Linked DNA regions of Homo sapiens: region 1 is linked to region 2. A link means that fine-mapping ties the variant in region 2 to the expression of a gene that starts in the linked region. Tissue or cell type: visceral fat. Region 2 holds a variant in brackets; the other region holds the start of a gene. All regions are shown on one strand. Distances are from middle to middle.

Region 1 (8,106 bases), 150 kb after region 2:
AATTATATTTTTAAAATATTTTTCTTTTTTTATTTTTCAAACATCAACTTGAACCAGAAATCCAATAATTACAAATAAAATTTACACTGTGGCTGGGCATGGTGGCTCATGCTTGTAACCCCAGCACTTTGGGAGACTGAGGCGGGCAGACAACTTGAGGTCAAGGGTGTGAGACCACCCTGGCTAACATGGTGAAATCCCACCTCTACTAAAAAAATACAAAAATTAGCCAGGCGCGGTGGAGCGTGCCTATAATCCCAGCTACACAGGAGGCTGAGGCAGGAGAATTGCTTGAACCCGGGAGGTGGAGGTTGCAGCGAGCCGAGATCGCGCCATGAACTTCAGCCTGGGCAACAGAGTGAGATTCTGTCTCAAAAAACAAAAAAAGTTACACTGTGAATTTTCCAAATGCTTCATTTTATAAATCTGCAAGTAAGAAAAATTTCACTGCCAATTATGCAAATTCCATAACGAACCCCAAAGATCTGAAAGATAGTTTCATAACACCAGGAAATTATGAGGTACCATGTCAATTAACATTTTACTCCATTTTATAGTTAACCAAACTATAAATGTGCTTATCTTTATTCTCAGGATCTGTTTTTTTCTTTTTTGAAAAGGAGTCTTGCTCTGTCATCCAGGCTGGAATGCAGTGGTGCGATCTTGGCTCACTGCAACCTCTACCTCCTGGGTTTCAGCGATTCTCCTGCCTCAGCCTCCCGAGTAGCTGGGACTACAGGCGTGAGCCATAATGCCCAGCTAATTTTTCTATTTTTAGTAGAGATGAGGGTTTCATCACGTTGGCCAGGCTGGTCTCGAACTCCTGACCTCAAGTGATCCACTGGCCTCAGCCTTCCAAAGTGCTGGGATTATAGGTGTGAGCCACTCTGCCCAGCTCAGGATCTGGTTTTAATGGCAATTTTTTGTATATACTCCCATGGCACCCAGACTTCTTTAAAACACATACTAGACTTAGAATTTATTCTTTGTCATCTTCCCCAACTAGGCTATTAGCAACATGGGGGTAGGTACTGCTATATCTTTCAGCCTAGAGTTCCTGGCACATAGTAAGTGCTTGGTAACAGAGGTACCAAATAAATCAATCACTGAGTGGTACTGAAATTTTAACTCCTTTAAAAACATTGAGGCTGAGATTCTGGTTAAAAGTCTATTCAGAGAAGCTGCTGGATAGAATGTCACAACAGGAGGCCGGGTGCGGTGGCTCACACCTGTAATCCCAGCACTTTGGGAGGCCAAGGCAGCAGGTGGATCACAAGGTCAGGACTTCAAGACCAGCCTGACCAAGATGGTGAAACCCCACCTCTACTAAAAATACAAAAATTAGCCAGATGTGGTTGCGTGCGCCTGTAGTCCTAGCTACTCAGGAGGCTGAGGCAAGAGAATTGCGTGAACCCGGGAGGTGGAGGTTGCAGTGAGCCAAGATCATGCCACTGCACTCCAGCCTGGGCCACAGAGTGAGACTCCGTCTTAAAAAAAAAAAAAAAAAGAATGTCACAACAGGTACTGGATGGCCTGTTTGGAGGCCTAATTCTAGACCCTATCTCCTATCTCTTACTCCCTTTCCCTACATTGCACTAGGGATTTCTCAGTTCTGCCAAACTTGGGAAGAAGTGTAAGATAGAGGCCTCTCCATCTCCTGAGATGTCCACTTCCCTGTTACTGTGCTCAACCCCCTGGGCATAGAACTGGAGTTCCCAAAGATGTTTCTGATTCAGGAATGTGAATCTGAAAGCACAAAGGGCAAATCAGAAAATGGAACTCATTGGTGTTTAACAAGAAAGAAGAGATATTTAATATTTAATAATATATATAATATATAAGAAATATATAATATTGAATGATAAAATTCCAGAGAGACTACACCAAAACTTAATAGTTACCTTTGGGGAATGAGAACATGAAGAAAGGGTGGTGGTGGGGTATTCCTGTGAATTTTTATCTTTTGTTCTACAGCCTTCTTTACTGGTTAAGTACTTATTTGTTAACCAAGAATGTGAAAACAACAGAATATCACTAACCCCAATCAAAGAGCCTCTCACTTCAAACAACATTTAGCTGGTATATAAGTACACGTGTGTTTACTTTGCTATTAGATCCAGGGCGGAGGTAGTGATTTTAAAAAAACAATTCTAGTAACAACAGGAAAAATCAAATTGAAAAACATATCAAGCACCATGGACTCAAAGGTTAAGTGTAAGTGCACTTGCCAACAATAGGTCTCAACTCAACTGAAAATGACGTGGCTTCCTTATCAATTCATGTTGTCCCCTGAATCCCCTTCTTAAGTAGGAGGGAAAAAACGTATTCCATATAGAGTTTGGTATGTGGGAAAGTTGTGTTTTTTGTTTTTGGGGTTTCTTTAGTTTTTTATTTAAGAGATGGGTTCTTGCTCTGTTGCCCAGGCTGGATAAGCTTTTGTTAATGCAAACGACATCTTATACTATAAGAGATACACAGAGATATACTCACAGTTTGGGGGAAATGTCTTACTAACATTCAGGTACTTAGTCTCAAAAATGAAGCTACTGAAAAAGCTTCATTCTCATGGAGGATGGGAAGAGTTACATACATGAGCAACTCAAGGGTTTTTTTTTTGTTGTTGTTGTTGTTGTTGTTGTTGTTGCTGTTTTGAGACGGAGTCTCGCTCTGTCTCCAGCCTGGAGTGCAGTGGCGTGATCTCGGCTCACTGCAACCTCCACCTCCAGGGTTCAAGCAATTCTCCTGCCTCAGCCTCCCGAGTAGCTGGGACTACAGGCGAGCGCCACCACGCCCAGCTAATTTTTGTATTTTTAGTAGAGAAGGGGTTTCACCATGTTGGCCAGACTGGTCTTGAACTCCTGACCTCAGGTGATCCACCCGCCTTGGCCTCCCAAAGTGTCTTTTTGTCTAATACTGAAAAGTTGCAAGAAACGTTAACTCTCTAAACCAGCGCTGTCCAATACAGTAACCACTAGCCACATGTGGCTAATGCGCACTTGAAATGTGGTCAGCCAGAACTGCGATATGCTATGCGTGTAAAATGCACCCAGGATTTAAAAGACTTAGAAAAGACTCCAAAAGAGAATGCAAATACTTCATTAATAACTTTCATAGTAATTTTAGGTTGAAATTGTTTTGATAAATTAGGTTAAATAAGATATGCTATTAAAATTAATATCGGTTTCACTTTTTTAAAACGTGCCTACTGGAAAATTTTAAATTACAATTTTCAATGCAGCTTGCATTCTATTTATGTTGGACAGCGCAGCTCGGAGCCTTAGTTGCCTCGGCGGTGAAATGGGGCTAACACCCACCTCGAGCGGTTACTGTAAGGATCCAGTGAATTAAAGCTGGTAAACGTTTGGCATATGCCAAGCAAAGGGCAGATGCCCAGGCAGGCGCTCGCACCAGAAGAGACTGAGAAGTGGTTGAAGCCGCCCTCACCTGGCTTCCAGCTACTGCAAGGACAGCCTTTGGGGGACACGCCTTTCTTCTTCCTCTGGTAGACCAGAAGCTGGACTATCACCCCAGGAACCCGAGGCCGCCCCAGAGTCTGCTGTGCTGCCAGCCAAGGGGTTGGTGAGTGAGGCGGGGGGCGCTCCTTCCCACAAGCTGGTCTCAGTGAGCAGAAACAGGGGTGCAGTGAGGAGGAACTCCAAAGCTGGGGCGGCCTGCTCGGAGGACGGCCGCGCAGGCTAAAAGAGCGGCCCGCGGAGAAGGCAAGGAGGCGGCTCGGCTCCCCGGACGTCAGCCTCGGCGGCCCCACCTACCTGCCCTGCAGATTCCCCGAATGCCGCGGCGGCCGCAGCTCCCGAGGCTGCGACGGCTTCTCCTCGTTCCACACCGCCCACTGGCTCCTGGTCCATCGTCGTCGCCACCACAGGGCTGCTGGCGCTGGTGAGAAAGAGGGTAATGGCCGGTAAGCCCACTTCCATCCTTGGTCTCCCCGCCCAGTCGCTGGCCGAGCCAGGCTGTCGGGAAGTGGGACTCACCCGCCCAGCGCCCGCCTCGCGCCGCGCCTAGCCAAGTCTCTGAGAAGGGGACTCGCCGGCCTGAGGGGCGGGGCCAGCCCGCGCCTCGCCTAGCCCGCCGGGCTCCGCACCCCGAGAGCTGGCCAACTGCAGTCTGGGAGGCGCAACTACCGGCTCGCGCGGGGCGGGGCGGGGCGGGGCGGGTCCTTGCGGGGCGTCGCTTCCGGCCAAGCAAGCATCCAGAGCTCGTGGATCCCCGCCTGGCACCGCCTGTGACGTCATTTCTGGTACGTGTACCTGAAGCCTGGCGTCTCGACCTCGGCGCAGCCCGTCACCAGCGGCGTCTGGGGCAGTCACCCCGCAGGACCTCGGTTTTTGCACTTGTAAAATGAAGACAGCTGTGTCGTTGTACTTCAAAGGCTAGTGATGGGATGTGGTTGCTGAAAAATGTAAAATGTACGGCTCGTGCTGCACTTTCCATTCCAAACGTGGGTGACAGTCCAGCCAAAATACCCTCGAAAGAAGAACCCCAGGCGTGATATTTGCTTACTCTTGTCTGAAATACTTAAGTATAACTGTAGAAAGTGTTAAGTGAAAAGACCTGAAGGAGAGCAAAGGGCAGTAGTAAGCTTCCATCTTGACAAATGTAAGGAATGTTTTATCTGTGTCTTAAAGTCGTGTGCGTATGTTAGAGGGGGCGTCCCAGATTTTTTCCGTCTTTCGCAATGTTCAACGAAAGTAAAAAATCATGCAATTACTGCATGACTTCAACATCAAACAAGTCTGAGGTTCTGCAGGTAAATGGTATATTGTTGTTTTAGCATGAAAGTTTTCACAAATATGTAGGGGGCAAAACCAAAACATACATTATTTTGGCTATGGGAGGCTTCATTTGATACTTTAAATTCCATTTTCATACTAGTCTCAATTCAGAAATGCTCCCTAAAGTTGTATGACCTTGTAAATGTTTTTCATCATAGCAACAGCAGGCCCAAATATTAAATATTCCTTTCTCTTCTGTGCCAAAGTTCTTCTCCTTACCCTCTGCCTAATGTTATTGTACACTTCCTATTCTATGTATAACTGGAACCTAAAAACAAAACCAAAAACTTTAAAAAACAAATAATCATTTGAAAACCATCTACGCCTTAAAAACTAGTTGGAAATCCATATTGCTCTCTATCCTGGTAATAAAATCAAGTTAGGTTGCTGCTGAAGTAAACAAGTTAGTACCTGATCTGACTCTGTATGGTGGCATCAGCAGGGAGTTGAGACAGTCCAAAACAGCAAAACCAAACTCGGCCATAAATTGAAAACAAAAATAAAGAACCAATTGTTAAGACTTCATGAATTGGCATTCATAAACAACACAGTTCTGCATTATATGTATTCAAAATCTCTTCCTTCTTACTGGCAAGCAGGGCAATCAACAATCTTTATTACTAAAACTTTGTGGGATATTTATAAATGCATGATTTTATTTTCCAAAGTGGCAATTAAATATCAAATTACAATTTTCTTTTTCTTTTTTTTCTTTTTTTTTTTTTTTGAGATGGGGTCTCACCCACGCTGGAGTGCAATGGCGCAATCTTGGCGCACTGCAACATCCGCCTCCCGGGTTCAAGCGATTCCCCCACCTCAGCCTGCCAAGTAGCTGGGATTACAGTTGTGCACTACCACGCCCGGCTAATTTTTGTATTGTTAGTAGAGACGGGGTTTCACCATGTTGGCCAGGCTAGTATCGAACTTCCGACCTCAGATGATCCACCCACCTCAGCCTCCCAAAGTGCTGGGATTACAGGCGTGAGCCACCACGCCTGGCCTCAAATTACAATTTTCATTGCCGAAGCAGAATATATTTTCACAGTTTACATGTGTATTTCTTAGTTTACTGAAAATTCAAAGTACAAGTTACATTCTAACGTGAACTGGAAGTATTTCCTAAAAAGTTATTTTTAACACAAATATCCAATTGAAGAGCAGTTTATTACAAATCAACAACTCGGGCTGGGCACGGTGGCTCACGCCTGTAATCCCAGCACTTTGGGAGGCGGAGGCGGGTGGATCACGAGGTCAGGAGATCGAGACCATCCTGGCTAACACGGTGAAACCCCGTCTCTACTATAAAATACAAAAAATTAGCCGGGCGTGGTGGCGGGCGCCTGTAGTCCCAGCTACTCGGGAGGCTGGGGCAGGAGAATGGCGTGAACCCGGGAGGCGGAGCTTGCAGTGAGCCGAGACCGCGCCACTGCACTCCAGCCTGGGCGACAGAGCGAGACTCCGTCTCAAAAAAACAAAAACAAAACAAATCAACAACTCAAAGCAACATAAAAGCATAGAAATTCTAATGGTTTTATTTTGGACATTTATATTTTTGTCATTATTTCCAAACTGTTATAGCTCAACCAAAAGTAGGCACCAAGGCAATGTGCCAAATTTTTCCTTCTTTCACTTTGTAACATAAATTGTATCGTAGCACTATGACAAAAATAAATTCAAGTATTATGATAATTTATCTACTTGAAAACATAATGTGGTCTAAATTTATCATTTAATGATACATATAGAGCTAAAAAGGTAAATTTGGATTGAACCATTTCTGCGTAAGGCTGGGAAAATAAATCTGAATAAAATTTGATAACCAGGAATGTTCATCAAATAAACAAGACATTCTTAGGGTTTTAACATAGCTACATATATATACTTTGATAGAGAATTTTTTAAGTTATCCATCAAACAGGACAATATATTTTCATCAAAAATAATGCACAAGAAAAAAAGATGATAAAAATAAAAATGCATTTTAGGTTCAGTCTAAGCATAAAGAAATTTTTTTTTTTTTTTTGAGACAGGGCCTTACTGTATCACCCAGGCTGGAGTGCAGTGGCACAATTATGGCTCACTGCAGACTCAGACGATCCTCCCACCTCAGCCTCCTGAGTAGCTGGCGTGTACCATCACACCTGGCTAATTTTTATATTTTTTGTAGAGATGAGGTTTTGCCATGTTGCCCAGGCTGAATAAGTTATTAAAATCATGGTAGTGGTTTCACTTATGGAGCACAATATGCCAGGTACTTTGCTTTCTTTGTATTAACTCTTATTCCTCACAACAATTCTGAAGTATTACTGTAACTACCAACATGTTATAGATGAGGAAACAAAGAGAAGTTAAGCAACTTGCTCCAGTGACGCAGCTGGTAAGCAGCAGAGCTGGGATTAAAACCCAGGCATTCTGATTCCACCACCTACACACTTAGCCATTCCGCCCCACTGAGAATGAAAATGTCAAAAAATACTAGGCCAGTAAGTGTTAGCAAGGCAAGAAATTTCCACACCAAAGGTGAGTATGTTGTTTGGAAAGATTGGGATGGAAATGAGTAAAGTATGTTTCTTTTTAAAAGTCTTTTAGTAAGCTTTAAAGCTCTATATGTAAGAAGCAGATGAAAATACCAAGTGAATTTTTAGATTTGATGTTATGTAAGGTTTTGTTTTGTTAATTAAAATTTGGTCATTTTGTGTGTGTGTGTGTCTGTGTGTGTGTGTGTGTGTGTGGTGAGAATATACCAGTGATATCCAATCACCAAAATTTTCTTTTTTTTTTTTTTGAGACAGTCTCACTCTGTCAGCCAGGCTGGATTGCAGTGGCGTGCTCTTGGTTTACTGCAGCCTCGATCTCCTAGGCTCAAGTCATCCTCCCACCTCGGGTCCCAAGCTGGGACTACAGGCACACATCACCACACCCAGCTAATTTTTGTATTTTCCCAGAAAGGGGTTTCACTATGTTGGCCAGGCTGGTCTCAAACTCCTGGCCTCAAGTGATCCACCCGCCTCAGCCTTCCAAAGTGCTGGAATTACGGGTGTGAGCCACCATGCCCGGCCTAGAATTTTCTGTATGGTATTAGGCATAAAATAACTAGCTTTCTTTGCACACTATGCTAGACTCAGTAATTTTAATGTTGGAGAGCTGTGCATCTTCATCTAAAATCTGTAGAACCCTGAGTGTCTTCTGATAAGAATCTATAACAAATATAAAGATATAATCCTTTTTTTTTTTAGACAGAGTCTTGCACTGTCACCTGAGCTGGAGTGCAATGGCACGATCTTGGCTCAATGCAACCTCCACCTCCCGGCTT
Region 2 (8,106 bases):
TGTAATGCCAGCTACTCGGGAGGCTGAGGCAGAGAATTGCTTGAACCCGGGAGGTGGAGGTTGCAGTGAGCCAAGATCGTGCCACAGCACTCTAGCCTGGGCAACAGAGTGAGACTCTGTCTCAAAAGAAAAAAACAAACAAACAAACAAAAAATTTTGCATACTTAATATTTTCACAATCATGGAATTGTCGTGGCTTTTGGGATTTTCACCTTCAAGTTCTTTTGGTAAAATATTAATACTGTTAAAATACTGTATTTTTATCTTGCAGGATTATTTTGGTTCATTTGAAGACGAATGGCTGTTTCCATTTATCCTCCAAGCTTAAACCCAATAAGATTACCTGTTATCTCTTTCCTCAACAGATGAGAAAATTTTCAGGGGGTTTTCCTGATATAACAGAGGCTTTCATAACATAACATGGAGAAAGAGAGACCTATTATAATTGGAAAGTTTCCATTTCAATTAATTCTGTAACTTTACATGCATAAGCAATTTCTACTTATTTATAGTCTAGGTAAGACTGACTAAACTAAATGATGTCAGGTTGACTTTGCAAGCTTCTTTTTTCACATTAAAGAAATACTACGGTCTCAGTCTGTTCACACAAAACACCTGAAACTAGGTAATTTATAAAGAACAGAAATTTGTTTCTTCAGAGTTCTGGAGGCTAGGAATTCTAAGATCAAGATGCCAGCAGGTTCTGTATCTGGTGAAGACCTTGGGTCTCTGCTTCCAAGATGGCACCTTGAACACTGTGTCCTCACACAGTGAGGCAAAAGGAACAGAAGGACAAAAAGAGCTGAACTCACTCCCTCAAGCCCTTTTATAAGGGTGCTAATCCCATCCACGAGGGCAGAGTCCTCATGACCTAATCACCTCCTAAAGGCCTCACTTCTTAATACTGTGAAATTGAGAATTAAGTTTCAACATGAATGTGGAGTGGACACATTCAAACTATAGCAAGTACTCACTATAATTTTTTTTTTTTTTTTTTTTTTAGATGGAGTCTCACTCTCTCGCCAGGCTGGAGTGCAGTGGTGCAATCTCGGCTTACTGCAACATCCGCCTTCCGGGTTCAAGCGATTCTCCTGCCTCAGCCTCCCGAGTAGCTGGGACTACAGGCACGCACCACCATGTCCAGCTAATTTTTGTATTTTTTTTTTCAAAGGAGTTTCACTCTTGTTGCCCAGGCTGGAGTGCAATGGCACGATTTCGGCTCACTGCAGCCTCCGCCTCCCGGGTTCAAGCAATTCTCCTGCCTCAGCCTCCGGAGTAGCTGGGATTACAGGTGCCCGCCACCAGGCCTAGCTAATTTTTTGTATTTTTAGTAGAAACAGGGTTTCGCCATGTTGGTCAGGCTGGTCTCAAACTCCTGACATCAGGTGATCCACCTGCCTCGGCCTCCCAAAGTGCTGGGATTACAGGCGTAAGCCACCACGCCCGGCCTAATTTTTGTATTTTTAGTAGAGACGGGGTTTCACCATGTTGGCCAGGATGGTCTCAATCTCTTGACCTCGTGATCTGCCCGCTCAGCCTCCCAAAGTGCTGGGATTACAGGCGTGAGCCACTGCGCCCAGCCCTCACTATAATTATTTAACAGACATCGAAGGCAATTCTGATACTAGAACTTACATAAGTACCTCTTCAGAGTGCTTACTACACAGCAGTAATATTAGGGACATATGCTTCTTTTTGTAACCAAACTTTTAAAGAACTGAAATGAAATTATAATTATAAAATTTTAAAACAAGGTCTAGCCCTGCTGTGGATTACCATGGATCTGAAGTGAAAAAATCAGCTTAAAAATTTATTTTCCAAGAGTCAAAGGGCAGGAGTCCTCCTATTTAGTCTTCTCACCAACTTCCTAGCATTAGTTATTGCTGAGGTATTGAGGCCTGTTTAGTACTTTCAGAAGCCTCTCTCAAGCTCACCCACTGTTCTCCTGACTCCTTTACTGCTGATGCTTACACAATCCATTCACCGGTTCGTAACAAGAATGTTGTGAATAGTACTCAGAGTGCCCACATGGCCCTGCCCTCTGAGGGTTCACAGGAAAAATCCCTTTGGTTTCAATATTAGGAATAATGGAACATTCTCTGAACAATTTGTTTCTATTTAATCTTATGAATTATGTGAAGCCTATAAATGAATGAGTCTTATAGTGGAAATAGCTCCTTTGGAAGATATACCAGAATTGGGTGTTCCTTCAAATTTCCCCATTCTCCAAAGCTCTGATTTCTCCCTTCTGCTACTGCTCTTAGCCTACCTCCTTTGAGAATCTCTTTAGGAAAGAGAAATGTTTATGATGAGAATGTGAGGTACTTACAAATGATGTGCAAGCAGATAAAAGCATGAGCCCCTGCTCTTAAGTGATCATGTTATCATCTTCAGGTTTGCTGACAGAATTTACAGCCAAATTAATAGAGCACTTCACCATATGCATTTTGTGCACCAACCTTAAACCTTTTATTTCCCTAAGCTTATTTTCCCTTTGTACCCTTTTTACATTAACTTTATTTTAACTTATTTTAAATTTATTTTATTTTCTGTATCACATATATTATAACCATCTTACATCTTTCATAAGACAAAATGGGGTAGAAATAATATACCAATAAGGAGTATCCACTTGAGTTGGCAGAGTGAATACTCTAAGGAACAATATACCCTTCCTAATACTATCTAGAAAAAAAGCCATGTCTAAATCACTGCAAAAGAAATCTAAGATCTGAACTGATCTTAATCAACTGATCTTAATCGTATTTGACTGGGATAAAAATCAGCCTTTATATTAGTGAAAATTGTGAAACAGAAACAATTTTAAAAGGAAAAAAATGCTGTTTTAAAATAAACATTACCAGAAAATTATGATTAAAGTGTTACCACTGTAATAATTAGGTAAGAATAATTTATATAGCTTTATAAACAGTTTAAGTAAATTTACTACTCACTCTGCAATTGCTGTTTACCTTACTGACAACAAATATTTAAACTTTTCTTGTTAAAATGGATATTATATTTTCATAAGTGGCCTCTTCCTACCACACTCTCAATGAGAGTGTTTTAAAACACTGTGATGGAAGCAAGATATACACAATAATGACTCACGAGACAATCTCACCACACCCTAAATGGTTATCACACAGACATTATCAATGACACATCAGTGATGGGAAATCAACTTGCTATTAGGATTTTGCCAGAGAGAGAAAAGATATGGGAGCTTGGCAACACAGTGTTTTTAATGCTGTTCAAAGACACTGGATCACTTGACTTCTACAACAATTGGGGAAATCTTGTTTCAAACACTATGCAGAATGTTCCTTTCTGGGACATTTGAAAAGAAAGGACTATGAAGCCAAATCACTATAGAAATTTTGCCTGGCTCCATTCATCTTGCTAGTTATGCCCTTGATCACTTCACTAAAAACCCACCTGACAGTTGATCATTAACTTCATTAGCAGTTGGTAAGAATAATTCTGAGTGATGCAGACGATCCCAGCAGTCACATGACAAAACATAACTCTTAACACATGTCAAGGCAGGAGTGGGTGAAGTGATACATGACAAAAGGAAGTAGTCAGCCTGGCACTGTTTGACCTAGGGCAATATGACTTCCCTGAGTTGCCATGTCATGAAAAATGAATAGTAAGAAAAAAACCCAAGAACCATTCTTTTGTGTTCTTTAGTGAATTCTGGATTGGCATCCACTAATGCAAATTTGTTTCCTCAAGTCACTTATATCACCCTTGACTACCCAGCAGTAACTCCTTAAAACTAAGGAGTCATGATTAGATTTACTTTTCCCCATGTGATGAAAATATTTATTTTCTGAGACAGGGTCTCACTCTGTTACCCAGGATGGAGTGCATCAGCGCAATCACGGCTCACTGCAGCCTAGATCTCCAGGGCTCAAGTGATCCTCCCCCCGCCTCAGCCTCCTGAGTTGGTGGGACTACAGGTGTGTGCTACCATACCCAGCTTATTTTTAAAAATTTATTTTTCGTAGACATGGCAGGGGGCAGGGGGGTCTCACTATGTTGCCCAGGCCGGTCTCTAACTCCTGGGCTCAAGTGGTCCTCCCACCTCGGCCTCCCAAAGTGTTGGGATTACAGGTATGAGCCACCATGCCTGGCCTGAAATAGCACTTAAATGCTGCTA[A/C]CTGATTAGTTGTTTTAAGATTCACAGCCCAAGTTTATAATTTCTATTGACTTATTTATTTTTAGATCTTCTTCCAAGAATCCACATTAACAGTGACTTGTTTGGATGATATTTATTGGGGGATATTTCAGATTCCCTAGGGAGAAGCTTACAATTACATTGCTTTGATATTACATATAATTACTTTAAGTCTGAGGTTTTTCCCAATTTATACATTCTCCTTGGACTCCTTAACATATGTTTCTTAAAGTCATAACTAGGTAATTTAAACTATTATAATACTAAAGTAACTCCTTGATAACATAACTGTTGGTTATGAAAACATGAGAAGCTTCTTTTTTGAAAATGAAAGAAGTATATCACTCTTAGAACTAAGTTCCAGTTTCCTAAGTTTCACATATATAGTTAAAAAAATAGATTTCTACCCTAAGAATCATTAAAAGACCTATCTGACTTCTAAAATTGCTTGTTTTTGAGTTTCTCAAACTCAAGTTTGAAAATTAATATTCTGCAGAAGAGCAGAAACATTAGTGTTTAAGTTTATACCATTAAAGATTTATTTTAGTTTCTTATCTTTAAAATATGTGTGAGTTTTTAAAAAGAACTAGAAAAAGTATTTGTAAAAATACATAACTATATAAAGGAAGAAGTGACTGGTCAGTGGAGAATTTCTACTTCCAGGCTTTTTTCCCTGAATATACATAAAAACACACACAGTAATTTTTTTTTTATTTTCAAAAAATGGGATCATCCTGTATATTTTGTTTTCAACTTGTCTTTTTCATGTATCATGGGTACCTTTCTATGTCAGTAAACTCACCTCCAGTACTCAGTTGGCTTCTGTATAATTTCCAATTTTTTGCTATTACAGAGATACAATGAAAATTATGTATCTTTATGTACCTGTGCAAATATTTCTGCAGAACAGATTTCTGAAAGTGGAACTGATACATCACTGTATATTTTGAATAGATACAGTACCAAACAGACTCCATAAAGCTGAATTAACTTACATTCCCACGTATGGCATAAAAGAGTATGGCCTAGTTAATGTTTTCTAATATCTATAATTAAAATATTTTATATAATAAAACACTGCATATGCTAATACCACATTTATCTGAACACTGTTCAAATATAAGTTTCATATAAATGAATTTCAAGATAAATAAAACAAAATCATGTGTGAGAGGAACTTTCTGAAAAGCATTATGATTTTCTTGCCTTCTTAATTATGCAGATAGTTACAATTTACGATTTTCTTTACAATTATAAATTTTCAAAAAAGAAATCACAATTTGCCTATCTTTTGAAATAGGATATACTAGTCATAGTTTAAGACTTTCTTTATAATTTTGAAGATTATATATTGGATGCTACTTTCTTTAATACAGTAATGGCTGTTGAGGCTACTGAGCTGTTTGCTGGAAGGCTGAGCTGGATCCAGAAGGTTGCACTTTTTGACTTTTTAAAAAAAAATTAATTAATTATACTTTAAGTTCTGGGATACACGTGCCAAACGTGCAGGTTTGTTACATAGGTATACATGTGCCATGGTGGTTTGCTGCACCCACCAACCCGTCATCTACATTAGGTATTTCTCTTAATGCTATCCCTCCCCTAGCCCCTCATCCCCCGACAGGCCCTGGTGTGTGATGCTCCCCTCCCTGTGTCCATGTGTTCTCACTGTTCATCTTGTACTTATGAGTGAGGACATGAGGTGTTTGGTTTTCTGTTCCTGTGTTAGTTTGCTGAGAATGATGGTTTCCAGCTTTCCCAATGTCCCTGCAAAGGACATGAACTCATCCTTTTTTATGACTGTATAGTATTCCATGGTGTATATATGCCACATTTTCTTTATCCAGTCTATCACTGATGAGCATTTGGGTTGCATTCTTGTACACCAATAATAGACAAACAGAGAGCCAAATCATGAGTGAACTCTCATTCATAATTGCTACAAAGAGAGTAAAATACCTAGGAATACAACTTACAAGGGAAGTGAAGGACTTTTTGACTTCTTATGGCAGCATTTTTCTTTCAACCTGGACAGCAGTCTCTCTCTTCTCCCTAATGTAAGCATACCTGCCTCTAGTAGTAATCCCATCCCTCCACTTTCAATCCATGCATAAAAACTCTAATATGCTGCTCCTCATATATATATTTGAAAAAGAAAAAAAAATTCCTCAAACAGCTTCTCAGAGCAGACATGAAGACAGTATGTTCTTCAAAGAAGGACACCCAAGTGTGAATAAGACACCCAAGTTTTGGGACATAAGGGACAAGACATTCTACCTCTAAAGCCAGATGTTAAGAGAGAGTCTTTAAACGGGAGAAACAATTATATGGAAAAGAGTATTTAAAAGTCAAGGAGGTATGATAAAAATTCTACTTCAATATTTAACATTTCCTATTGTAAACATAATAGGGTATTTCTAAGTTTCCTTCCCACTTTAACGTTATTGAAACATAATTTCAAGCATGGGGATCGAGAAACTCACATTTCTACAGTTGGGGCAAAAAAAAAAAAAAAATACACCCGGGATTATATACACACAAAAATACTGAGCATAGTTTATTGTATCTTAGGTGCTTTATGGTATTGAAACTTTTACAAGAGGTTATGTAAATCAACAGAAAGAAATAAAATAACTTGAGTGGCAGAAAAAATAAGAACTTACTGTCAAGTAAACACTTTACCAAATGACCTTTAATGACCAATACTTGTGCCTCTATTTTTCTCTCACTGTAGTAAAACCAACTAACAGATGGCAATCAAAACAAATTCTACAGTGTTTTCACCAAACCACTTTCTATTCAATGCCCCAAGCATGCTATAAGAATGAAAGCATTCAGTGCTGGTGTCAGCCATAATTCTTTTAAATTACATTATAAATTTTCATTCTGCTGAAGCCATTTTAACCAATTCTCAGTTATCCACAGAAATAGGGAGCAGAATTTTGAAGAACTAGCATGATTAACTAAAATGATGTGCTTTTCCCCCCATACATCTTCTATTAGAGGAGCTTATGAACACTGAAAATCCAAAATGCAAGCTGCAAAAGGAACAAAGAACAAAAGCATTAGGACTGAATTATGGGTAGGTATGTGGGGGAAGAGAGAATGAGAGAGAAAATGCAGCATTAGAAGCTTTCCACTTCATATCCTTTTTCTTTTTTTTTTTTTTCTACTCTGTCACCCAGGCTGGACTGTAGTGGCACAATCTAGGCTCACTCAACCTCTGGCTCCCGGGTTCAAGCGATTCTCCTGCCTCAGTCTCCCTAGTAGCTGGGATTACAGGCACGCGCCACCATGCCTGGCTAATTTTTGTATTTTTAGTAGAGACAGGGTTTCGCCGTGTTGGTCAGGCTGGTCTTGAACGCCTGACCTCAGGTGATCCACCCTCCTTGGTCTCCCAAAGTGCTGGGATTACAGTACAGGTGTGAGCCACCATGCCCGGCCCCTCCTTTTGTTTTCTTAATGGAAAGTTATTATACTATGTTGTCCCTGCCTCCTCAAGGGGGTCTCACAGCACCAATTATTAGTGATAACTGAAAAGAAAACCTAATTTATTGAAATGGAAGTTACAAAGGTATGTGTAAAGTATGAGTCATGGAGACTTTTAGAATTCCCTCCCTGATCATTCTAGGATAAATGGTCAACAACAGCATGGTCTCTTTTCACAAAAAACTACTATGAAGGAACTTGATATTGAAAAAGACAATCCAGGCAAAGACAGTTTTGCATTGCCATGTTGAAACTCATCTCTAGTTCCTGGGCTAGACTTGGCAATCCTGATGTAACTGAAAATACAGACAGAAGTGACTAGGCAGAATGAGGTTACTTTGGAAGAATCAAGAAAGACCTTTGAGGTGCTGATAATAATCCAGCCATTTGAAGATGGAAGAATATTAAAGAAATAGCAAGTACGAAGATTTGGA

What was found. PIP is the estimated chance that this variant, and not a neighbour inherited with it, causes the effect.
Region 1: FAM177A1 starts here. The variant in region 2 is fine-mapped to the expression of FAM177A1 in visceral fat (GTEx, PIP above 0.99).

The regions. Positions count from the first base shown.
Region 1 is chr14:35,042,293-35,050,398 of GRCh38, reverse strand. FAM177A1 (family with sequence similarity 177 member A1) reads right to left here and starts at 4,127. Exons shown (of 5, transcript NM_173607.5): 1 at 3,771-4,127. The coding sequence starts at 3,935. RefSeq lists enhancers at 3,258-3,317, 3,418-3,687, 4,408-4,607 and a silencer at 3,938-4,287.
Region 2 is chr14:35,192,228-35,200,333 of GRCh38, reverse strand. All of the region lies in intron 5 of PRORP (protein only RNase P catalytic subunit), which reads right to left. The region is part of intron 5 of PRORP-PSMA6 (PRORP-PSMA6 readthrough); the gene reads right to left. Among named protein-coding and RNA genes, the nearest start is that of PRORP, 74 kb to the right of the region's middle. The variant A/C (reference allele first, on the strand shown) is at 4,166.